7 linked regions of the Homo sapiens genome follow. The protein of the gene in region 4 purifies or fractionates together with the protein of the main gene of each other region. This does not show direct contact. Each region holds a gene or a part of one and is shown on either strand. Other genes may lie near its edges.

Evidence for each region.
Region 1: the proteins of ROS1 (region 4) and COPB2 purify together in Homo sapiens (affinity purification with mass spectrometry; one large-scale study listed by BioGRID and IntAct). This does not show direct contact.
Region 2: the proteins of ROS1 (region 4) and ODAD3 purify together in Homo sapiens (affinity purification with mass spectrometry; one large-scale study listed by BioGRID and IntAct). This does not show direct contact.
Region 3: the proteins of ROS1 (region 4) and DNAJC10 purify together in Homo sapiens (affinity purification with mass spectrometry; one large-scale study listed by BioGRID and IntAct). This does not show direct contact.
Region 5: the proteins of ROS1 (region 4) and OSBPL8 purify together in Homo sapiens (affinity purification with mass spectrometry; one large-scale study listed by BioGRID and IntAct). This does not show direct contact.
Region 6: the proteins of ROS1 (region 4) and CLCC1 purify together in Homo sapiens (affinity purification with mass spectrometry; one large-scale study listed by BioGRID and IntAct). This does not show direct contact.
Region 7: the proteins of ROS1 (region 4) and SCFD1 purify together in Homo sapiens (affinity purification with mass spectrometry; one large-scale study listed by BioGRID and IntAct). This does not show direct contact.

What each region holds. Positions count from the first base shown.
Region 1 is NC_000003.12:139,379,648-139,383,147, forward strand, and holds part of COPB2 (coatomer subunit beta'), read right to left. Parts: intron 1-3,500. UniProt on the Homo sapiens protein: The coatomer is a cytosolic protein complex that binds to dilysine motifs and reversibly associates with Golgi non-clathrin-coated vesicles, which further mediate biosynthetic protein transport from the ER, via the Golgi up to the trans Golgi network.
Region 2 is NC_000019.10:11,428,622-11,432,121, forward strand, and holds part of ODAD3 (outer dynein arm-docking complex subunit 3), read right to left. Parts: intron 2,400-3,500; coding exon 2,278-2,399; intron 2,156-2,277; coding exon 2,078-2,155; intron 1-2,077. UniProt on the Homo sapiens protein: Component of the outer dynein arm-docking complex (ODA-DC) that mediates outer dynein arms (ODA) binding onto the doublet microtubule. Involved in mediating assembly of both ODAs and their axonemal docking complex onto ciliary microtubules.
Region 3 is NC_000002.12:182,729,757-182,733,256, reverse strand, and holds part of DNAJC10 (dnaJ homolog subfamily C member 10 isoform 1 precursor), read right to left. Parts: intron 3,410-3,500; coding exon 3,316-3,409; intron 2,228-3,315; coding exon 2,150-2,227; intron 759-2,149; coding exon 715-758; intron 1-714. UniProt on the Homo sapiens protein: Endoplasmic reticulum disulfide reductase involved both in the correct folding of proteins and degradation of misfolded proteins.
Region 4 is NC_000006.12:117,387,943-117,391,442, forward strand, and holds part of ROS1 (proto-oncogene tyrosine-protein kinase ROS isoform 3 precursor), read right to left. Parts: intron 1,905-3,500; coding exon 1,408-1,904; intron 93-1,407; coding exon of another isoform or gene 51-92; coding exon 1-50. UniProt on the Homo sapiens protein: Receptor tyrosine kinase (RTK) that plays a role in epithelial cell differentiation and regionalization of the proximal epididymal epithelium. NELL2 is an endogenous ligand for ROS1.
Region 5 is NC_000012.12:76,388,772-76,392,271, forward strand, and holds part of OSBPL8 (oxysterol-binding protein-related protein 8), read right to left. Parts: intron 1,887-3,500; coding exon 1,649-1,886; intron 1,059-1,648; coding exon 874-1,058; intron 1-873. UniProt on the Homo sapiens protein: Lipid transporter involved in lipid countertransport between the endoplasmic reticulum and the plasma membrane: specifically exchanges phosphatidylserine with phosphatidylinositol 4-phosphate (PI4P), delivering phosphatidylserine to the plasma membrane in exchange for PI4P, which is degraded by the SAC1/SACM1L phosphatase in the endoplasmic reticulum.
Region 6 is NC_000001.11:108,932,485-108,935,984, reverse strand, and holds part of CLCC1 (chloride channel CLIC-like protein 1 isoform 1 precursor), read left to right. Parts: intron 1-1,042; coding exon 1,043-1,315; 3' UTR 1,316-1,360; exon of another isoform or gene 1,361-1,365; intron 1,366-1,439; exon of another isoform or gene 1,440-3,483; 3' UTR 3,484-3,500. UniProt on the Homo sapiens protein: Anion-selective channel with Ca(2+)-dependent and voltage-independent gating. Permeable to small monovalent anions with selectivity for bromide > chloride > nitrate > fluoride.
Region 7 is NC_000014.9:30,733,335-30,736,350, reverse strand, and holds the end of SCFD1 (sec1 family domain-containing protein 1), read right to left. Parts: intron 1,562-3,016; coding exon 1,493-1,561; intron 766-1,492; coding exon 742-765; 3' UTR 501-741; downstream 1-500. UniProt on the Homo sapiens protein: Plays a role in SNARE-pin assembly and Golgi-to-ER retrograde transport via its interaction with COG4. Involved in vesicular transport between the endoplasmic reticulum and the Golgi.

The sequences.
Region 1 (3,500 bases), on a different chromosome or scaffold from region 4:
GAAATTAAAACACTTTTTAAAAGATAAGAGAAGGCAAATATCCACAAGATGGTATTCCAGATCCTCTGTGCTCCAGCCCTTCCCTCCCTTTTCCAGCCTCACCTTTGGCTACTCCCAGCCTCACCTCTGCTCTTGTTGTCTCTGACTTGAAAATCCACCCATGGAAACTTGTACTTCCCTTTCATAATGTAGCACCTCATAATTATGTTTAGTGCCAATCTTTCCTGCTAAGCTCTCCAAAGGCAGGAATATTTTTCACACTGTATAGGCAGAGGATAGAACAGTGGCTGGCACACAAGTAGTGTGTAATAAATATTTGTTGAATGAATTAGCTCTTAGTTTCTTTTTTTCTTTTCTTTTTTTTTTTTTTTTTTTTTTTGAGACAGTCTTACTCTGTCACCCAGGCTGAAGTGCAGTACAGTGGCACAATCTTGGCTCACTGCGACCTCCGCCTCCCAGGTTCAAGTGATTCTCATGCTTCAGTTACCCAAGTAGCTGGGATTACAGGTGTGCACCACCATGCCAAGCAAATTTTTGTATTTTTCGTACAGACGGGGTTTCACCATGTTGGCCAGGGTAGTCTCGAACTCCTGGCCTCAAGTGATCCACCCGTCTCAGCCTCCCAAGTGCTGGGATTACAGGCGTGAGCCACTGCACCTAGTCAGTCTTTTTGAAATTGAAACCCATAAAAGTGACTCATGAATAAGGTACAATTCTTTTGCATGCTTTAGCAATATGATTCCATACAAATGTTATTATTTCTTTTTAATAAAATATGAAAACACCGTGACTTATATGTTCCTCCGAGCTGCTCAGAATGGAATTATACACATAGGATAAAGGTAGAGACCCTCCTAGAAAGAGCAGAGATCATGGTACCTCTTTGTTCTCCTTCTTTGATGCCTGTTCTTAAAAGTCTGAAAGTCAAACTATCATTTTCTAATCCTTTTTTGTATCAGAGAGCAAAAATGAAATAACTAAGAAACACAATATAATCTTACTGATTGATTAACCATGTGCACTAAAAAAGTAATAGGGACCGGTTCATAAGAACTGTCCTACTCTGACTTTTCAAGCCAGAGTTCAAAGATTCTTTAGACAAAGGCTGAATGAGTAGGCACTTCAACTCTAACCTGTAGAATCACTACCAGCTGACTATGATACAGAAACTGAGAGTAGACACAACATGCGATCTATAACACGGCAGAAAAATCCACAAAAGCTCATGAGGAGCCAACAAATCCAGGGATCTGCTGAGCAGTAAAAATAAAGCAGCTGCAGAAGAAATAGCCAAGGTTCAACGCCATGTTAGGGGCTATGACTGATGCAAATAAAGAGTAAGAAAAGCTACACACACAATACATACAAATACTCAACGTAGATTAGGAAAGTATAACTAATGACTAATACTTATATGGTACTTTATAGGTTTCATACACAATTTTATCTAATTTTATTTTATCTTTTTGACAATCCTGTGATGTAGGCAAGGCAATAATATCATCTTCACTTCAGATAAATAAAGAGGCTCAGCATGGTTAAAAGGCTTGCCTATATAATTTAATCAGCAAGTTGGCTTCAAATCCTAAAATACTATGTTTTTTAAACCACTGCATGTACCACCTCAAAGAATATATAGCATCTCCTTATTTGAAATTCAAGTACATCTAAAAACCTTTTTACTTCCAAAAACCTTTTTGGCTCTCTCAAGAATTTGCTCTCAATATAGGAGTGGTAAATGCTGTTGGTGATATAAACACAGGGAAAAAACAGGGAGAATCAAAGACAGATTAATCATTCAACAAAGACTTACTATCTACCAGGAGCCTGACAGTGTATCAGGTAGTGCCTCATGCACTGGACCAACAGTGGGAAATAAGATGAGGGTAATCCTTGTCCTCACAGAACCTCCATTCTTAGAGGAAAGAAGGAAATTAAACATGAAATTACCACTGAGATGAATTATGAAAGGGGAAGCAGATGGTCCTGTCATAGGGCAGAAAAAGGTATAGAAGAGAAAAAGGAGGCAAAGTGGAAATGCAGATAAAGCAGAGATATATTACAATAAAGCCTAGAGAAAGATAAGAAAAGTACGCCTGGGCTTTAGAACATACGATGATCAAGTGATAGAGCTGAGATAGGTAAATGTAGCTGATAAGAGGGAATCCCTAGGAATAATCAGAGAGAGAGGACACCAACGTATCTGTTAAACATAAAATCAGAAATATTTTAAACATCTCAAGAACTAAACAAAAAGCAAAAAAAAAAAGTTATTTGCATCAAAGCAAAAACAATTCACAAGATAAAGATCTGAAATTGTAGAGAACACAAATACTGAACTAGTGATAAGTGAAATGCATATTATTCATTGGTTGAACAAATAATTATTGAGCATTTACTATGTGCCAGGTAATGTTATAGGTACTGAGATACAGCAGAAAACAAAATGTTAATTTATATAAAATGTCACTGATGGACTATGATATGGTTTGGATTTGTATCCCCACCCAAATCTCATGTCAAATTGGAGGAGGACCCTGGTGGGAGGTGATTGGATCATGGGGGTGGATTTCCCCCTTGCCGTTCTCGTGATAGTGACTTCTCATGAGATCTGATGGTTTAAAAGTGTGTGGCACTTCCCACTTTGCTCTCTCTCTCCTGCCATCATGTGAAGAAGGTGCTTGCTTCCCCTTCACCTGCTGCCAAAATTTTAAGTTTCCTGAGGCCTCCCAGTCATGCTTCCTGTTAAGCCTGTGGAACTGTGAGTCAATTAAACCTCTTTCCTTCATAAATTACCCAGTCTCAGGTAGTTCTTTACAGCAGTGTGAGAACAGACTAATACAGGGTATGAGTTTAGTGTACAGTCATTTCTGTTTCATTACAGTGAGTATAAAAGTATAAAGGTGTTTTTAGGTTTACTTCTGGCTTTGGTTCCTTGATGTCATTTTGCCATTTTAAATTCCTCAAATGCGAATTTTACCTGGATTTCAAGAACTTAACTTTGGACGTTAAGGATAATTACTATATAAGTAGACACAACTGTATAGTATAGTGCTAACTATATGCTTTGTACTCTTAAATACAGTCTAGGAAGACTGGAAAATATGAGACAAACTAATTTGAAGGATATGTTATTTACTCAGGTGAAAGAGAATGAGTCAAGCATTCAGGCAGACAATCTGTAAGATGTGTGTATAATCAAAAGCTGACTATAAATATTTCCCTGATATAATCTATATGGCTGAGTGAAAGATTTATCTGTGTATCATTATATTGGGCATCTGGGAGAAAAATAAATTTAACGATATCATTCTTAAGATAGAGTATTCACTGAATGGAAAACTAACGATTAAATACTTTAGCAAGTGATTCTATAATACCATCAGTTTTCTCAATTTCAAAAAAGAGCTAATACTACCTAAGTCAGAGTTGTTATATTTAAATATTGTATATAACATACCCAGGACAGTTTCTCCTACAAACTATCCCCTCATAAATGT
Region 2 (3,500 bases), on a different chromosome or scaffold from region 4:
CACTGCAGCCTCGACCTCCCCAGTTCAGGTGATCCTCCCACCTCAGCCTGGCAAGTAGCTGGGACTACAATCCTGTGCCACCACATTTGGCAAATCTTCTGTATTTGTTGTAGAGTCAAAGTTTCACTATGTTGGCAGGCTGGTCTCAAACTCTTGGGCTCAAGTGATCCTCCAGCCTTGGCCTCCCAAAGTGCTGGTATTACAAGGCATGAGCCACCATGCCTAGACTGTGTTTTATTTTTTATTTATTTATTTATTTATTTATTTATTTATTTATTTATTTTGAGACAGAGTTGCCCAGGCTGGAGTGCAATGGCATGATCTCGGCTCACAGCAACCTCCACCTCCCGGGTTCAAGGGATTCTCCTGCGTCAGCCTCCTGAGTAGCTGGGATTACAAGCATGCACCACCATGCCCGGCTAATTTTTTGTATTTTTAGTAGAGACGGGGTTTCGCCATGTTGGCCAGGCTGGTCTCAAACGCCCGACCTCAGGTGATCCGCCCGCCTCAGCCTCCCAAAGTGCTGGGATTACAGGCGTGAGCCACCGCGCCCGGCCTTTAATTTTTTATCTTTTGTTTTTGTTTGTTTGTTTGTTTTTGTTTTTTTGAGACAGAGTCTCGCTCTGTCACCCAGGTTGGAGTGCAGTGGCACCAGTCTCAGCTCACTGCAAGCTCCGCCTCCCGGGTTCAAACTGTTCTCCTGCCTCAGACTCCTGAGTAGCTGGGACTACAGGCGCCCACCACCATGCCTGGCTAATTTTTTGTATTTTTATTTTTATTTTATTTTTTATTTATGTATTTATTTTTGAGACAGAGTCTCACTCTGTCGCCCAGACTGGAGTGCAGTGGTGCGATCTCAGCTCACTGCAACTTCTGCCTCTTGGGTTCAAGCAATTCTGTGCCTCAGCCTCCTGAGTAGCTGGGATTACAGGTGCCTGCCACCACACCTGGCTAATTTTTGTATTTTTAGTAAAAACAGGGTTTCACCATCTTGGCCAGGCTGGTCTAGAACTCCTGACCTTGTGATCCACCCACCTCGGCCTCCCAAAGTGCTGGGATTACAGGCATGAGCCACCGCGCCCGGCCTTTTGTATTTTTAGTAGAGACGGGGTTTCACCGTGTTAGCCAGGATGGGCTCGATCTCCTGACCTCGTGATCCACCCGCCTCGGTTTCCCAAAGTGCTGGGATTACGGGCGTGAGCCACCGCGCCCAGCCTTTTTTTTTTTTTTTTTTAAAGAAACAGGTTGTACTGTCACTCAGGCTGGAGTGCAGTGGTGCAATTGTGGCTCATTATAGTCTCAAACTTCTAGGCTCATGCAATCCTCCAGCCTCAGCCTCCTGAATAGCTGGGATTACAGGCATGTGCCACTGGTCATTGTTTTCGTTTGTTTGTTTTGAGACTGAGTCTCACTCTGTCTCCCAGGCTGGAGCACAGTGGCACAACCTCAGCTTACTACAACCTCTGCCTCTTGGGTTCAATGACTTTTAAAATGTTTTATTTTTTTTAATTATTTTTATTTTATTTATTTTTTGAGACGGAGTTTCGCTCTTGTTGCCCAGGCTGGAGTGTAATGGCACAATCTCGGCTCACTGCAACCTCTGCCTCCCGGGTTCAAGCGATTCTCCTGCCTCAGCCTCCCGAGTAGCTGGGATTACAGGCACGTGCCATCATGCCCAGCTAAGTTTTGTATTTTTAGTAGAGACAGGGTTTCTCCATGTTGGTCAGGTTGGTCTTGAACTCCCGACTTCAGGTCATCTGCCCGCCTTGGCCTCCCAAAGTGCTGTGATTACAGACGTGGGCCACCGCGCCTGGCTGTGATGTTTTTTTTTTTAACTTGTTTTCCCTATTAGGATATGAGCTGTTTTTAGAAGTGGAGACTTGGTCTGCTTTTTCACTGCATTTACTACCATGCCAGGATGCCAGATACAAGGAAAGTGAGTAATAAAGATTTAATTGAATGAGCACATGAATGGCAGCTAGTGTGCAGGAAGGATTGGAGAGGGTGAGCCTGGAGTCCAGTGGTGAGGGGACCCAGGCTGGAAATGAAGGAGGAGGTGGGGCGAGGGTGGGCAAACCTGTCCTGTCCTGTTCTTCAGGTATGGCTTCTCCCACTTCCATTCGCGAATCACTGCCTGGACCACTTTCTCATCTCCCTGCAAGGAGGGAAGTCCAGTCACCTTTCAGCATGCCACCTCCAGCTAAGGCCAGGTGCTACCTACTTGTCCCCCACCATCCACCGCCACGGGAACCCTACACCCACCCCTTTGCCCCTTACCTTGAGCAGGTCCAGCAGCTTTAGTTCCAGTGCCTTAGTCTCCTTGCGGAGCTGACTGATGGTCTCCTGGTTCTTCTTGATGTTCCACTGAGAGCTCTCAAAAAAAGCCTTCCGGTCACCCTCTGGCAGGCAGGTGAGGTGGACAGACACACAGTTACTGGGTGGGTGCATGGGTGCAACATCCCAGAGGAAAGACCTTTTTTGCAATCATCAACTTTTTTTTTTTTTTTGAGATGGAGTTTCACTCTTGTTGCCCAGGCTGCAGTGCAATGGTGCAATCTCGGCTCACCACAGCCTCCGCCTCCCGGGTTCAAGAGATTCTCCTGCTTCAGCCTCCCAAGTAGCTGGGATTACAGGCATGTACCACCACACCTGGCTAATTTTGTATTTTTAGTAGACATGGGGTTTCTCCATGTTGGTCAGGCTGGTCTCGAACTCCTGACCTCAGGTGTTCCCAAAGTTCTAGGCCCCCTAAAGTCCTAGGATTATAGGTGTGAGCCACTGTGCCAGGCTCATCAACTTAATATTATAAGAATGCAGTCGTTGACCAGCCTGGCCAACATGGTAAAACCGCATCTCTACTAAAAATACAAAAATTAGCCAGGTGTGAGGCTGAGCATGATGGCTCGTTCCTGTAATCCTTGCACTTTGGGAGGTAGAGGCGGGCGGATCACCTGAGGTCAAGAGTTCAAGATCAGCCTGGCCAACATGGTGAAACCCCATCTCTACAAAAATACAAAAATTAGCTGGGCATGGCCGGGCACGGTGGCTCACGTCCATAATCCCAGCACTTTGGGAGGCCAAAGTGAGCGGATCACGAGGTCAGGAGATCGAGACCATCCTGGCTAACATAGTGAAATCCCGCCTCTACTAAAAATACAAAAAAAAAAAAAAATTAGCCGTGCATGGTGGCAGGCACCTGTAGTCCCAGCTACTCAGGGGACTGAGGCAGGAGAATGGTGTGAACCTGGGAGGCAGAGCTTGCAGTGAGCCGAGATCGCACCACTGCACTCCAGCCTGGGTGACAGAGCGAGACTCTGCCTCAAAAAAAAAAAAAAAAAAAAATTAGCCGGGCATGATGGTGGGTGCCTGTAATCCCAGCTACAGGAGGCTGAGGCACAATAATTACTTGACCTCTGGAGGTGGAGGTTGCATTGAGCTGAGATCCTGCCACTGCACTCCAGCCTGGGCAACAGAGCAAGACTCTGTCTCAAAAAACAAAA
Region 3 (3,500 bases), on a different chromosome or scaffold from region 4:
CCAAAGGATATAATGATCATACTGCTGCCAACAATATAATGTCAAAATATGTAAAGGAAGAACTGACAGAAATATAAGAAATAGATAAATCAATGATGGATGGTAGAGATTTTAATACATCCCTCTTAGAAATTATAGATCATGTAGTCCAAAAACAAATAACATGATTAATAAATCTGATCTAATAAATGTAATACTACACCTAACATATATTACACCTAACATAACATTATTATATTCAAGCTCACAAAGAATTTCCAAAATTTTCAAAACTGACAATTTGTGTGGCTTTGTCAAGCCACAAAGCCACAAAGGGTATTTCAATGGTGTTAAAAAATCAACATCACTCAGGCTACTTCCCAGCCATAACATGAGAGCTATATACATTTAAAAATGACTAAAAAAGAAAACAACAAAAGATAAAGTTGGGAAATGACAAAAACACTAACATGTAACTTCAGTTGAAGAGGAACTTATAAATTACAGAATACTTACAAAGTAAATGACACTTAGAATTGATACCACGTTAAAATTTATTGAACGTAACTAATTATTCAGGAAAAAACACATAGCTATGAATACAGTCATCAGAAAATAAGATTACAAATAGGTGAGTTAAATGTTCAAGAAATAAGGGAAGAAAATGTTTCAAATCAATTTCTAAATGTGTTTCTTTACATGGTGATATAGTTTTACAAAATGATTGATGCTTACCAACATGCCACTAAGCCTGAGTCGTGTCTGTGAAGTCAAACAATCTGGGGACAAAAAAACCTTATGAGGCAGTTTTACCTTTATTAAGCCTGATGAAAATACTTGCATTTGCCTTTCCCCCAAATTACCATGTTCATTCGAAGGCAATTAATTGAGCTGGACTCTATTGATAGATATGGAAATCCTTCTACACACACACACATACAAACACACACACAAAAACACACACACACTCCCTCGCTCCCTCTTTCTTTCATTCTCTCCCTTTAATTTCTAGGATGTCTAGCTACAGAGAAAAAGTAATTTTCTCTCTTTAGGTTAATACTCTCAATCTCTCCTCCTATCAACAATCCATTTTATCCAAGAGATCTCAAAATTGGGGGGAAATAAAATGTAATAGATATTTGATAGAAGTATATAAAGGATCCTCAAAATACAATAAAATCTTTAAATAGTGCCTTCACTATTTTTATGAAAGTTCTGCAAATATGAACACTAGAATACAATGAGAGAAGATTTAGAAGAAAGAGAGCTATAGCATCACAGAGCCTACAAAGACAGGGAGAAGCAATTTACTTGAGGTGAGAAGTAAAAGAATCTCAGAGAATGTAAGAACTTTTGTTCATGTGTGGATGAACAGAAATTTGGGCAATAGGCCAAAATGAGACAAAATCCCTTGGTGATTAGTTAAGTTTAAGGCTGACGTTTTGCTGCAAGGCAGTGTCTTTCTAGCATAGGCCTTACAGGATGGGGTAATGGGTTGATTTTAGTTACAAGGCAGTACCTTTTCAATATAGCAGCATGAAGGCTGAGAGATGAAATGTGGGGAGAAGACTCATGTTGGGATTAAATACATGCAAATACATTGAGTTATAATATTTTGTTGTCTTAGAACAATTTTTAACCAACCACATTGCTTGAACACAGTTTACAGTTTACGGCTTGCTATGCAGAGTACTGAATTTTCAACTTAATTTATTCAAGGAAAGGTTCCTAGAAGAAGCTGTCATCTTCAAGTATATAATTGTATGAGGCAAATCTATGTATGTTTGAGAGATATATATAAGCATGAAGCAAAGTCCATATTTCCAAAAAATTATTATTTTGGGAGGGGTTAGAGCTGTAAACAACTAGTTATTTTTGCAAATTGTCAAATAACATCTGTGGCTATCTGAAGGTACAATTTATCATGAGTCTAAGCTGAAAAACTGGTCCACTGAACATAAAAACATAGAGGATACATTAAAAAATGAATAATAACCTCATGTGTAAAATAATGAAAAAGGCGAATATTCATTAAGTAAAAAAATTGTAATCCTGGGCATAAATTGTAGTTTCTAGTACTTAATAATCAATTACAGTAGCATACTTAAAACTGTCACCAAAAATTTAAATGTCATGTTCTCATTCCAACAAAATTAAAAAATAGTATTACCTCCTCCTTTTGAACAAAAAGTGATCAGCCAGCCAATACCAGCAGCAAAAGCAGTTTGTATGGAGTTGACAAAATTTCCTTAAAAATAAAAGAAAAAAAGCAAATTCTGATCACCTATTACTCCTTTACTAATGGAAACAGTCTTCTAAGTAATTTTTCCTTTCTAATCTCACCCTCTTCTAATCCACTCTGAGTTTTACCAGTTATCTTTCCAAAGATACTCTTGAGTATGACAAATTCCTTCAATGGCTCTCCAATTTTTTCATCATATAAAACCTAAATTCATTATTTCATTAAGAAAAAAACTCAAATTGGCAAGTTAGGCCCCTGTGACTTGAGCTTTGCCTACCTATTTAGCCAGCTATATTATATTTCCCCACACCACTTGACCCAATTATTGATCTTTTTGTCAGATTCATGAAGTATTGCCAGTTCCCCAAATACACAGTGATCTCCTAAGGCTTCCTATTCATTTTCATGACAGATTGGATATGACTTCTTTCAAGAAGTATTTTCTAACTCTTTCTCTTTTCCCCAACTGGGTTGTTTTACACATCTTATGCTCCCTTAAGCTCTATAATAATAGTACCTATATTGCATTTTAATTGTTTACTAATGTTTTCCTCACTAATGAAGTCACTGATGGCAGGGACTATATATTTTATTACTGCAGCCCCACTATTTAATAGTTTCTGACACGTAACTTTACTCAATGAATAAAATGAACATCTTGAGCCACAAATACTATTATTAGCTTAATCTGCCTAAAGGCAGTTAATGAGTTAAAAGCCTAAGATTAGAAGCATTTTTAAACTTTAAAATTAAACAGAATAGGTTTGAATTTACTGATTGATAAGCATATTTAAAAAAGCAATAAAACACTTGTATTACAAAACATTTTTTGCACTTTGAGAGATGCCTTTTTTACCGTAGCCCTATCTCATATCCATTTCCCATATCTCGATAGTTCAAGTTTCTGTAAAAATTTAACTAGTTTGTTAAATTCAGCAGAGTTCAGAGTAAATGACACAATTCCCTTCTAAGAAACATGGAAAAGACACTTTAAAATTTCAATACCATGACCAAAATGTTAATATTGCCATTAAAAACAAAATACTGATTTCAAAATACCCTGAAAATCAAGCAAATTAAGAAAATAAAATTACCTGTCCAAAGTTCTGTCACTGTACTTCTAACATGCTGCATTGCAAAACTCACTAAACTCTCCTTTGATCTGTCTCCATGATATTTCACTGGGGCCTATTGGTTTTTGTAAGAAGAGAAACATCTTTTACTTTTTCTTTTTAAAACTCAATAAAAATAATACCAAAGAGTTTGATTTTTACATTAT
Region 4 (3,500 bases):
TTGGGTGGATACTTTCACCTCATAGGTCCAGTTCTGCCAGGCAGAAGGGCCTAATTCAAAGAGTTCAATAATATCACTGATCAGGATGACATCTGCAAGGGCAAACCAAGGATTCTCCATAAATTCACCTACAGCCTCATCTCAAATGGGAGAGCAATTGGGCAGTAATATCCGCTACCCCGATAATCACCAGGGATCATTTGTTGATGAGGCTAGGACAGTGTTCATTCCTCATGCCGCTCATTTGGCTGCATTGAAGGAGACAGCATTCCCAACAAATAGGACTGTCCTTCAGTCAAAGCTATATGCTTGCTGCATATAATTGTCAGAGGGGTTCTCTACAACACTAATAGATATAATCAGGCTCTTAATAAAAAATGCTTAATGATGAACCTTTAATGTAATTACCACTGTTTGTATAGTACCTTCCTCCAAGAAGCCCAATCAATAAAAAAAAATTACCTATTCATTTTCAGCCATCTTTGAGATATGCAGCAAACAGACATAATTAACTTTGTTCTAAAGCAAAAACAGCCAATGTTTTCTAAATACTTACTATCGTCTAGGGGATCAGGGATTGGCAAACTCCACTCACAGGCCAAACCTGGCCCACTGTTTCTGTAAATAAAGTTGTAATGGAACACAGCCACAGTTATTCATTTACATATTATCTATGACTGTCTTCACACTACAACGACATAATTGAGTAGCTGACAGGGACCATCTGACCCACAAAGTAAATAAAAATATTTACTATCTGGTCTTTCCTTTACAGAAAAAGTTTGCTGACCTCTGTGCTAGATACTGTTCTAAGTGCTCTACTAATGTGTTTTAATTTTATCTGTACAACAGTTCCATTAAAAGATATAATAAATATTCCCCATTTCCAGGTGTGGAAACTGAGACACAGAGTGGTTTAGTAACTTGCCCAGGGTCATTCTATTAACAAATGGCAAGTATTTGAATCCGTGCAGGCTGACTCCAGAGCCCACCTGCTTACCCACCCACATACTACCTCTCTCCAGAGATGGAGATTCGAGTTCAGAGTTTTAGGGAATTGCTGAAATTCATGCAAGCTTTCAACAGCACAAAAAATCTCAACCCAAGTATTCTATCTCCCTGGCTATTTGTTCTGACTAGAATGTCAATGCCTGGATCTTAGCAGACACTCAATAAATGTTCAAATTATTCTATTGGGATATACATGAGAAGTATAGAGATTCTCCTAATGTAAAACTAATAAATGCAGAACAAATGTATAAACTTTTTTTTTAGCTAAGTAGCTGCTTCTGGTTGATGACTGAATAGCCAAATGGGGCTCTCAAAATTGAATCACAACGCCAAGCAGTTCAAACCTTCCTCTTATTCCAGCAAGGCCAGTAACCACACTGGGGACAGAGCACTCACTGGCTCCTATGGCAAGGGCAGGAGGCTTCCATTGAACAAGAGCCTGGTGAGAGCCAAACAGCACCGAAAGCTCCTGCGGGCGGCCTGGCAGAGGGTGCAGCTGGGAGGATGAGCCAAAGATGACCAAGTTACCAAACCCAAATTCTTCTATGTGACTCAGGTCACATCCCACGATGAATTCATTAAAAGACAAAGCATCCTGTTGGAAAATGACCTTGCCATCTGTGACAAGAAAGTCATTGTTTTCACAAGCAAAACTTTTCACATCAGCAAAGGGGATGCGAGGTAGGATGAGATGGGAAGCAGAGCCATCCAGAAATGTTGACATGAAGACTTGGGCAGTGTCATTGAAGTAAATGATTCGCTTGGCTTGTGGCTTGATTGCAAAGTCCTTTAACGTGCAACTCTCCACAATACGCACAGCTTCTGCACACCGGCCAGATGGTACAGGAAGGTCTGCTCTATAAATGCCATCTCTCAGGAGGTAAAAGACATACCTGACACAGGAACAAAAGAAACCTCATGAGATTCAGTCCAAAGGTTGATGAGTAACCTCCTCAGCTAATTGCTTCATTCTGTTGCACAATCAGAACTATGTATCTCTGATGTTGCTAAGTACAGGATTTTCCAAGGTAGAAAAAGGTAATTTCCTAAGATATACTCTATTCGTTTAAGTTACAAGTTGGAACATTAGAAAATTTCAGCCTCACTTGTAATGCTTAGTCTCTTAATTATTATAAGTGACTTTTTAAGGAATCAAAAAATTCAAAAACAGGAAGGGTCTTTTATTTTTTTGAGACAAGGTCTTACTCTGTCACCCAGGCTGGAGTTCAGTGACACAATCACAGCTCACTGCAGCCTCAACCTCCTGGGTTCAGGTGATCCTCCCACACCTCAGTATCCCATGTAGCTGGGACCACAGGCTTGCCACCGTGCTCGGCTAATTTTTGTATTTTTTGTGGAGACAGGGTATCACCGTGTTGCCCAAGCTAGTCCTGAACTCCTGGGCTCAAGTGATCTGCACACCTTGGCTTCCCAAAGTGCTGGGATTACAGGCATTAGCCACCAGCCCTGGCCAGGAAGGGTCTTTCAAAATTTTAAAGGAAAACATACTATATAGAAATCACATGGCTAAATATGGTATTTACTATCAAACATTTTCCTCCAAAAAACACACATCCTTAAGTCTAATTTTATCAGTAAATTTTCTCATGCATTCTGAGTGATAAATGGAAGAAAGTAAAACATTTAAACCATTTTTAATTGTACAGTTATCATTTTGCTATAACTAGCATGGCTACTTTGCATTTGCAGTGGACTAATTTTTTTTAATCTACAATTGATGCAGGCAATAGAGCTACCATTTTATAAACCACAAAGAAATACCCCACACATGACTGAAGCAGGAAAATCCAGCAATCAGGAGAAAGAAGCCAACGGAAGAATTAGAGAAGCACATCTAATTTAAAGTCAAACCTCACAGTAACGAGGCAGGTTATTTTAATAATGAAAAAGAAAACATACTGCCAAAATATTTCATTGACAATGAAATATGTAAATAAACTTTTAACTAAAATATAAAACCATTAATGTGGATGTAGCTAATTTACAATTCGTGATTATGGAGAAAGGTGCTAACAGAAGTATACTTTGATAAATTCTTATCCCAACCCCAAGGACTGGCAGCATTCCAACCTCTCATCAAAACTGTCAAATCATTTTCCTTGTCCTTATTTAGTTCTGCTCTAATTCCCCTTGATGACTATTCCAAATCTTGATCAATTTTCTCAAAACTCCTATGCTAGAATAATATCCTGAGATATAAGCTCCATTTTGAGATATGTAGCTATGTTCTTTTCCCTGAGGACGGATTGTAGCAGGCAAAAAGCAAAAACAGCTTGGCTCTTAATTTTCTGCTTTTGTTTCCTAAATTCAAAATTGTTAATGGAATTTGGAGGAATTTCAGAGTAGATAAAAGGAAAACTATCTGTGGTAAATATTACAATTATTATATTGAAGCAGGGAGGAAGAGAAAGAAAAATAGAAAAGGTGAAGAGATCTGGTGCATGGGAAGAGGAGGACAGAGTGAGGAG
Region 5 (3,500 bases), on a different chromosome or scaffold from region 4:
CTTTTTTTAGGGAGGTTAACATTTTGTCTACGATGAAATTTGCAAAAATTTCCCAGTTTACCAATTATTTTTTGACTCAGCTTATTTTTTTCAATGTTCGCTCATGCCATTTATAGACAAAAACCGAAAATAAGTCTTGATAAAGATTCTAAAAATTAGGTCGCAGGGCCAGATATCAGTGGCACAGAAAGCACAGTGCCTTGAAACACCATTATTGCTGGAATAGGGGCATCAGGTAAGAATTGGAAGCATGGACACAAAGTTGCTGTTCCTTGCAAAGTTTACTGGTTTTCCAAGAAATTGCTGGGACAGAGGTGGATAGCACCTCCTCTGCCTCCTTTAGGTGTGCCTTCTTCAAAATTACACCCAGGATCAGCTGGCGGCTTCAGAAAAGCAAAGAAAATAAGGATTTGTTCCAAAAGCTAGCAACTGGCAGGGCATTCTAGTTCTGGTAAGCCGTACATACCTCACAAGCATGCAGACAGACAAGTATGAGCAAACACAGATGCCCCAGGATGGGACTGAACAAGTGTTTTTGTAGAGGAGAACAAATGATGCCAATCACCTCTCTCTCTCTGTTAGGTTAGTGAACTGAGGTTAAGGAGCCTATAACGGCAGTGTTGTTGAGTAAAGGGTAGAATTCTTGTTTTCCTCGAGCTTATGATATCTCAATTTAACTTCATAAATGGCAACATTATAGCAAAGTATCAAACATGCTTCTTACTAAGGGTCAACCACAGAAGTGGTAGAGAACAGAGAGTGATGTCTCATTAGAGCCTGATTTTGGAAACAAACGATAATTGAAAATAGCATTCTTGAGAATTTCTAAAATCATGAAGTATTGTCTATTTTAAGAAATAAGAATCTACTTACTCAGATAGGAAATCTGCATGATAGTAGTAATCTGAAAGTTTATCCAGGAAAGAACGGGGTTCCAAAATAAATGTAGGCAGAACCACCTTGGATAGGTCCATGCCAGGACGGACTTGTTTCAATAGTGTCCAGATAAGGCTTTTGTTTTCTTCAGATACAGTTTCTGTTTGAGAAGCCTCACCTGCCTTTATCAATTAATGAAAATTACCAAAACATTATATTTATTTCAGACAGATATGTAAACAAGCCAGCTAATGTTGAAAATATGAACTCTTCTCAGGACTACTCCAAGCATTCTTTAAATGTGGAAACAAAAAATAATAATAAAATCTATAGCTATAAAACTTAGGTAAAAAAGGGTAGCTGAAAAAGACATCAAAGTGAACAATATATACAAGAGATCCACTACAAAAATATTATAGCCTATTATTTTATACTACATTTACTTCTATGATGCACTGGCAATAACAAAGTTATAAACTCACGTTTCCTTGCAACTTTGCACCTGGCAATGACATCAAGCAATATCCTACTTCAAAATCAAGCTTGAAGAAAATGTAAACTTTAAATTTAATAGAATATATTGGTATTTATGTGAGTATATGTGTTTAGTTGTTTGTAAATCCCAATATATTTCATATGTATGCAATTTTTAAAATATCACATTCTATCACAGAAAAATAGGCAATAGATCAAGCAAATAATATCTTCAATTTCATTTAAGAATTCCCAAGAATATGAAAATCCAGAACCTCTAAAAATAGCAGACTTTTACCTCTCCAAGTTCTTCATGGCTCTGTTCAGTGTAGGTAGTCTCCTTTAAAGGCTCAACAGGCTCAGGTTCGATATATGAGTCATCTTGTCTTTCTGATGTATCTGTGTCACTTTCTTCACTTTTCCCCATCACCTCATTATCAGACTCATCATGTTCTTGATCATTTTCTTTATCAGATTTATCAGAATACATATCTTGGTCCTTAAAATGTTGTCGTTCAATTTCACTATCATTTAACCTTAAGGGAAAGAATTTTTAGGAGGAAGAATCAAGGATGTTAAGAATGCTCAATTCATAAATAATAATTATATACAACATTTATTGAGAATTTACTATGTGCCAGACAGTGTTCTAAGTGTTTTACATAGTGTTAATTCACTTAATCTTCAAAATAACCCTATGAGATAGGTAGTATTATTATTCTCATTTTACAGATTAGTAAACAGAGGCATAGAAAAATTAAAAACCTAGAGAAATGCAAAAAGATGACACTCTGAGCTCTTTGCCTCTCTACCACTTGGGGCTAAAATCCTCCAAAACCAAGAGTTTAGACTTCTTGTTAGATATTTTTCTTAGTTTTTCAAACAGCATCACTTGCATCAATCTCACTGTCACTTATGGTATGAAGAAAAAATGCAGGTCCAGATAATCAGATTCTCAACTGAACTCAAATAAATTATGACTTTCCACCTGTATAAGAAGGTTTCCAAAGTCACCTCACATGAGTCCAAGAAAAATATATGAAAATGGTAAATGATAAACAATTATATTAAATTCTATTCGTCTGAAAGGTTTAATCCTGAGCCAAAATCCAGAGAGAATTAAAAATGAAAATTTCAGCTGAAAGAAATTAACCTATGGACTAAAATCAAGTAAGTTTTGCTTAATCTACCCTATTCTCACTTAAAGTGATTAGGGCAAAAAATCTGTACAAAAGGGGGAAAGTCTTGGAAAGAGGTTCCAACAAATACCCATTCCTCTATCAGTAGCCCACCCCATTCCATCCTATCTCATTCGGGCACCAGGTACTTGGGATTAAGATAAAGCTCCAGATCGTAGGTCTGCAAAGAAATAACATAAAAGGTCAGGTAATGGAGATTTTAAAGAGAGTGGGGGAAAAAAGAAAAGAAAAAAAACCTGGGCAACATAGTGAGACTATGTCTCAATAAATAAATAAATAGATAAGCCAGCCAGCCAGCCCAGTGTGGTAATACAGGCCTGTAGTTCTCACTACTGGGCAGGTTGAGACTGGAAGATGGCTTGAGCCCAGGAGTTCCAGGTTACAGTGAGCTATGATTGTGCCACTGCACTGCAGCCTGGGCAACAGAGTGAGTCCCTGGCTCTAAAAAATTTTTTAAAGTAATACAGACAGAAAAAAAAAAGAAACAAGCAAAATGATAGGGAAGAAATGTCTAAATCAGGCAATATGAAGAAGAGGAGAATAGCAGTCTAACTTTGAGAAGAGCAACCTCAATGCTGATGAAAGTGGTTACAGAGCAGAAGCCAAGGGGTGGGGACAGGGAGGAAATAGAAAAGTCTAATGTTTTTCCTGCAAAGCAACAAAAAGACCTGAATCTCAAGAAAGTCTTTGCACTACTGCCCAGTTTCCTTGGAGAAATGCTTTTTTAGTGTTAACTACAATAAATGCTTCAGGGAATAAAACCACAAATAGGATACAGTTCCATTCCAAACAGAAATATAAATGAATTTCACAAATACCAGGTAGAGTTAAGTCCAGTGCCATTACTAAAAACATGTTACTCTATAGAAAGACAGATTATGTCTCATAGTTATAAGGTTTCACACATGATGTAATATTTGAGACTGATCTTGAAGAATATATAGACAGGAG
Region 6 (3,500 bases), on a different chromosome or scaffold from region 4:
TATTACAATGGCCTGGAAGCCTCCTTGGTCTCCCCTTCCCCCACATCCACTACCTCTCTGGTCACCTCTTCTCCCTCCGTGCTTACTCTACTTTAGCCATAAGGGCTCCTGACTGTTCCTTGAACTTGAGAGCCTTTGTACCTGCTGTTCATTCTACAGTCTTCATTTATATATCAATCATATGGTTACTTTCTTCAGGCCTTTACTCATTTTTATTATTTTTGGAGACAAGGTCTCACTCTGTGGTCAAGGCTGGGGTGCAGTGATCATAGCTCATTGCAGCCTCAAAATCCTGGGCTCAACCGATTCTTTTGCCTCAGCCTTCTGAGTAACTAGGACTATAGGCATATACGACCATGCCTGGCTAATATTTTTTATTTTTTGTGGATATGGGGTCTTGCTGTTACCCAGGCTGGTCTCAAACTCCTGGCCTCAAGCAGTCTTCTCACCTTGGCCTCCCAAAGTTATGGGATTACAGGTGTGAGCCACCATGCCTAACCATATCACTTTTTCAGACCACCCTAATTTAAACTGTAATTTGACCCTGCCAGCCCACCCACATTCAGCACTCATCTCTTCTCTGCTTTTTTTACATAGCCTCTTTAATTCAACATATCACACTTGTGTGATTTTCTTCTAACCTAAATATAAGTTCCAGTGAGAACAGTTTTATGTATTTTGTTCCTGCTGTATCCCTAACACCTAGAACTTAATATATGCTCAAGAAATATTTGTCAAATGAATTATTCTCACCAGGCAAGAGAAGTTGACAATACTGATGACCAATTCTCTTGACCCCTTCTAAGCTGGGCCACTAGACCACCCAGTATATGCGCTAAGCGTTCCCACTCCTCTGTGGGAGTACTGTGGAGTTTGGTGAGGTATAATAACATTTATATAATTATAACCCAGCACTGGACCCTGGATTTGAAAGAGTTTGGAGCTTGCTACAACGGATTTGGGTGGGAACTTTTTAGATATGTTTGATTACTAAGACTTCACATTACATTAAACAGTTAAAATGTAATTTTGTACTTTATAGCATAAATCACCTGTTTTGGATACAAAGCCCAAGGAGACAGGTGGAATCCTGGGGGAAGGCACACCGAAAGAAAGCAGTACTGAAAGCAGCCAGTCGGCCAAGCCTGTCTCTGGCCAAGACACATCAGGGAATACAGAAGGTTCACCCGCAGCGGAAAAGGCCCAGCTCAAGTCTGAAGCCGCAGGCAGCCCAGACCAAGGCAGCACATACAGCCCCGCAAGAGGTGTGGCTGGACCACGTGGACAGGATCCGGTCAGCAGCCCCTGTGGCTAGAGGAACACCAGCACAAACGACAGCCTCAAGTCTCCTTCGAGCTTTGTAAAGTATACTCTTCACTCTCTTTCTCTTCTCTGCAAGAATTCTGATTACTACAAAGGTGCCAACTTCAACATTCACATTTCAACTTCAACATTCACATTTTTACTGACAATTAGAATTAACAAACACGTTATATATGTAAAAGCTTTTCATTTCATCTTCTCTTTGATATTTACATCCCATAAAGTAAGAAGTGTTTATTTTAAGATGAACAGATGACAGGCATCACTGATTCTGGATAGTTAAGGAGGCCAGTTTGAATTGGGGACATTGAAAAAGAAATTTTATTGTTACAGGCACTTACGGGAACCCACTAACCAATTTACATTGCCTAGTGAATCCACTAGAGTTAAGGCCACCCACTTGATGCCTCCAGCATCTTCATGCAGCCATGGAGTATCGTTACCAGGATCAGTCTGACTGACACCTCAGCTTATCTCTACGCAGGCTGCCCACAGGTCACTGTGGCTGTAGTTTCATCTTTTCCACAGCTATTACTACGCCTGCATCCTTATTGTTCCTTTTACTTTGTTTACTTAGAGAAAACTGAAGACTGCCAGGGCAATTTAGATAACATAGCTTGTTATATTGGTAATCTGTTTTACAGAGTCAGTCGACTGAAAATGACTTTATTCTTTTCCCCCACCAATTGAAGTGCATGGGCTTTTTATAAAACCTATTTTTTGTGTTACTCAGAATCCTAGCAGTGGAGACTATTAGATATTACCATATCTTAATTCATATTATAGCAAATCATATTGTCTTGTCCATAGGAAGTTTGCATTTTTAGAGATCTATACATAGAGAATACCATGATGAGGAAGAAGAGAGTTGGGTGTCTTCCTTAACTGCAGACAGGACATCAGTCAGCACTTTACATTAGTCTTTCTGATTATCAAAAGCATTCCTCATTTTAAACTTTTTAAAAAGCAATGCATAAATTTTGTACCTGTCCTTAGCAGACTTCACAGACATCAGGTGTCCTTTGTTTTAACCATATTCACACTACAAGTTATGTTCAACTGCTTACTAAAAGTGATACCAGTCAGGAATAAAGTCTTTAAATTTTCATGCAGATATTTGTATCCCAAGCACTTGCTTTTTTATTTTAATATGAAATGCAGAATACACATTTTTGGATCCAGGAAGTGTTACTTACGTGCCTGTAACAATGTAATTTTAGGCCAGGTGCAGTGGCTCATGCCTACAGTCCTAGCACTTTGGAAGGTTGAGGGAGGATGATCGCTTAAGTTCAGTTGTTGAAATGCAGAATACACATTTTTGGATCCAGGAAGTGTTACTTACGTGCCTGTAACAATGTAATTTTAGGCCAGGTGCAGTGGCTCATGCCTACAGTCCTAGCACTTTGGAAGGTTGAGGGAGGATGATCGCTTAAGTTCAGTTGTTGAAATGCAGAATACACATTTTTGGATCCAGGAAGTGTTACTTACGTGCCTGTAACAATGTAATTTTAGGCCAGGTGCAGTGGCTCATGCCTACAGTCCTAGCACTTTGGAAGGTTGAGGGAGGATGATCGCTTAAGCTCAGTTGTTCAAGGCTATGTACTAAAAATAAAACTAGCCAGGCATGGTGGTACACGCCTGTAGTCCCAGCTACTTGGAGGGCTGAGGCAAGAGGATCGTGAGGTGGCAGTGAGTTATGATCGAGCCACTGTACTCCAGCCTGGGTGACAGAGCAAGACCTTGTCTCAAAATTATACATGTTAATATATTCTAGTTTAATATTGCAAACATCTTTAGAATTTCATCAGAAACGTGATTTTTTCTAAGAAATGCAAAAGGATTTTAGGATTTTTAACACAGAGGACATGTTTAACAAATGAATCCTGACAGACACCTGCAGTTTAGAATAAATTTGTGAACATCCATGCGTATAAAGTGTCCTCTTGGGACAAGACATGTTCACACTGACTTGGGGAATATGCCCCCAAGGTGAGAGCTGTCTTTTGAACTGTGATCTGACTCTGAAAAGTAGTGAATGCCCCAGGTGATAGACTGTAACTGTGAGTGGAATTAATGCTGCTTGCATGCCTTTTAATCCAAAACCAAATTCTTTTAAAAAATTTTTAAATAAAATTTCACCTTTGTATTCTTTCATTACAGATATCCATTTGGGGATG
Region 7 (3,016 bases), on a different chromosome or scaffold from region 4:
TGATATGAGGCTCATTAGGAGGGAAGGCTCCCTGGCCTTTATAATAGGAAGTGTTTATTTTTCTTCCCTTTCAAGCAATTGGCTTGCTTTTTATCTTACAGACGTACTGAACGGTATGACTGATCAATACTTCTTGTCAGTACTGCATACCAAAGAAGCTTGGAATCAAGTTTAACACTAACTTTTACGTATTATTTACAACTTTATGAGATGACTGTTTTGTATTTGTCCATTCCAAATCATGTTAGTGTTGCCTTGATCACCATTACATGAAGGAGGGACTTTATGTGATAAAATATACATAGGTGTGCCAGAAGAAGGGAACTTAAAGTGGCTTAAAATCTCCATCTAAAATCTATAGGCAACATGGATACCCAACAAACTATGAGAAAGTAGTTGTATAATTAAAATGCATACAAGTAGGGGACTCACGAACCAATCAAATAAAATTTAAATATGATAACCTTAAAATGTCACCAGCTTCAATCATAACCTATTAGTTATTATATTAGTACTTTCTGATTTATCAGAGAAAATGAACAATGTTGAAATTTTATTTCTGAAATGTTTCTTTTAATCAATACATATTAAGTATATAATTTCCTTAAAAATTAACAAATAACTCTGATTTTCACTGTTAGGACACTGTTACAGAGAAGGAAACATATTGCTCTTCTAACTTTTCTTCTTTTTACATTTATCCACATTCCAAGTAGATTATCATAGTAAGGTTCTTCTGTGTTACTTTTGTCCAAGTTGTGACAACTAAAACAAAACACAAAATCATACATAAAACTTTTAAAAAAGATCATAAAAGAAACATTCAAACATATTTGTAAACCCCTTAATAAATTACACTTCCTATTTTATTCACTGCATTCCTAGAATAATAAATCTTAATGTTCACCACTAACTCAAATGTTAAAACTGAAGGCTGGTCATGGTGGCTCATGCCTGTAATCCTAGCTATTTGGGAGGCTGAGGTGGGAGGATCACTTGAGGCCAGGAGTTTGAGACCAGCCTTGGCAACATAGCAAGAGACTGTCTCTACCAAGAAAAAGAAAAGAAAATGGAATTGCAATAAACGTCGTCATAGTAAAGAAATGTAAACATTATTAGGTAACGTTCAATTGATGGAAAAGAAAAACCCTGGGAATTAAAAAAATTAGTGCTAACTTTGTGACAATATAAAGAGAAATGTCATGAGTGACACACTACTGACAGTTCTCATATATTTTTGTATTTCTAAAGGATCATTAAAAGCCAAAGAAAAGGCTTTCAGTTCTGGAAGGATGGGCAAACTCCTACTGGAAACATTATTACTTATCAAGGTTTTCTTAGTCGTCCATGAAAACACCTTATCTTGGTATAGCTGGATGGCTTTGGTTTCGGCTGGTTCAGGTGAGTAAGTGGTTTTCTTTCTCTCTTTTGAAAAATACCAATAGCAACTAGGGGTATGTTAACAGAAACAAACAACAAATGTATACTTTACCTGTTTTATGAACTGTGTAGCATTAAAAAGCTCACTGCAGCCATATAAAATGTGTTTGCCTTGTTTCCCCTGTAAAAATCAGAGTCAGAACTTAGATACAAGTAACAAGAAATATATTCAATATTCCCAAGAAAAGAGATTAATATGCTAGTTTTTTTGTTATTCTTAACAGTCTTTCTTTGGGATACTGTTGGATTTTAGTATACACATCTACCTAAAATTGCATGAAATAAAGAGGAATAAAGTGGTGAAATGAGCATAGTATTTTTGTCCCCCAAAATATATACTATGGCATACTATTGGTGCCATTTCCTATTACACTAAAAATAGAAGGAATCTCACTGTCAAATTTCACAGGAGCAACAGTTACCTATAAAATCTTAGAACAACATTCTTCCAATGTAGGATGTGTACTACTTGAAGAATACATTCGAGTTTCTTTATGCTGAAAGTGGGCTATGGTGCAGGTGGCATGGATTGTGCTTTTAGTCTCACTTGAGCAACACAGTATTTATAAGTTAATACATCTCATTCCACATTGTCAACATCAGGAATAAAAGTCACAGTTACAATGTTGGAACCCAATCACAACAGCCAAAACTTCTCTATTAGCGATTTGCTAATTTCTTGTATGTATCGTGAACCTGAAGGTAAATTCATGAGATTTCTTTTGTAATATAAAAAAGTTTATTCTAGAACAAAGTAATTTGAGGATTCATCAAAGGACAGAGGAATGATGGCTTTGTAACACAACTCTGTGATGTATAAGCTGAGCAAATATTGTTGGCTGAATACATGTCCTAGATGGCCATCTCTGAGAATAAATAAAACAAAAGCCACAACTCATATTTTTTTCAAAATGAGATGGTATATGGGTCATATAATTGGGATTCTTGTGGCTAACAGGCATTAATTAAAGGTAGAGGTCACAGTATGCAAGGAGAAAGCAGGCACAGGGAAACATTAGAGGGGTCCAGAACTTCTAGGCATAGCTCCCAGGAGAACCTGATTCTTGTTCAAGGAGAGGTCTTTTATGCCTCTCTGGTCAGGTAGGCAAAATTGGGCTGCATGACCAGCATGACCAGGCTCAACTGCAGAAACCAAGGGAACATGACAGAAACCAGGTGAAAAATGTAAAATCAATCTTTACATTTTCTATTAAACAATGCTGGCAAGCCAGCCCAAGGTTGCCCCCTGGTTTATCGTAGTCTCTAGCCCAGGCCCAGAATTCATCACTAGTTAATACTTCATTCAGGTTTGGCTAAACATCAGCACCATGGATCCTGGTATTCTTGGAGATAAGCACAGGGGTACAGTAGCCCAGTTGAGATTAATCCTGACTTGTACAGTCCCCACCCTGGACCAAGCTTTCTTAACCAAATTACTCATCATCATTCTTTTCTAATCGTTTTTAGCCATCCAATGAAGTGTAGGTGTAATTTTAAAGAAACACTGTAGTTTACCAAACATTCCAGTGCAAACTTGTTCTTAATCATGTACAAGCTTGATGACCCCTTTACTTAC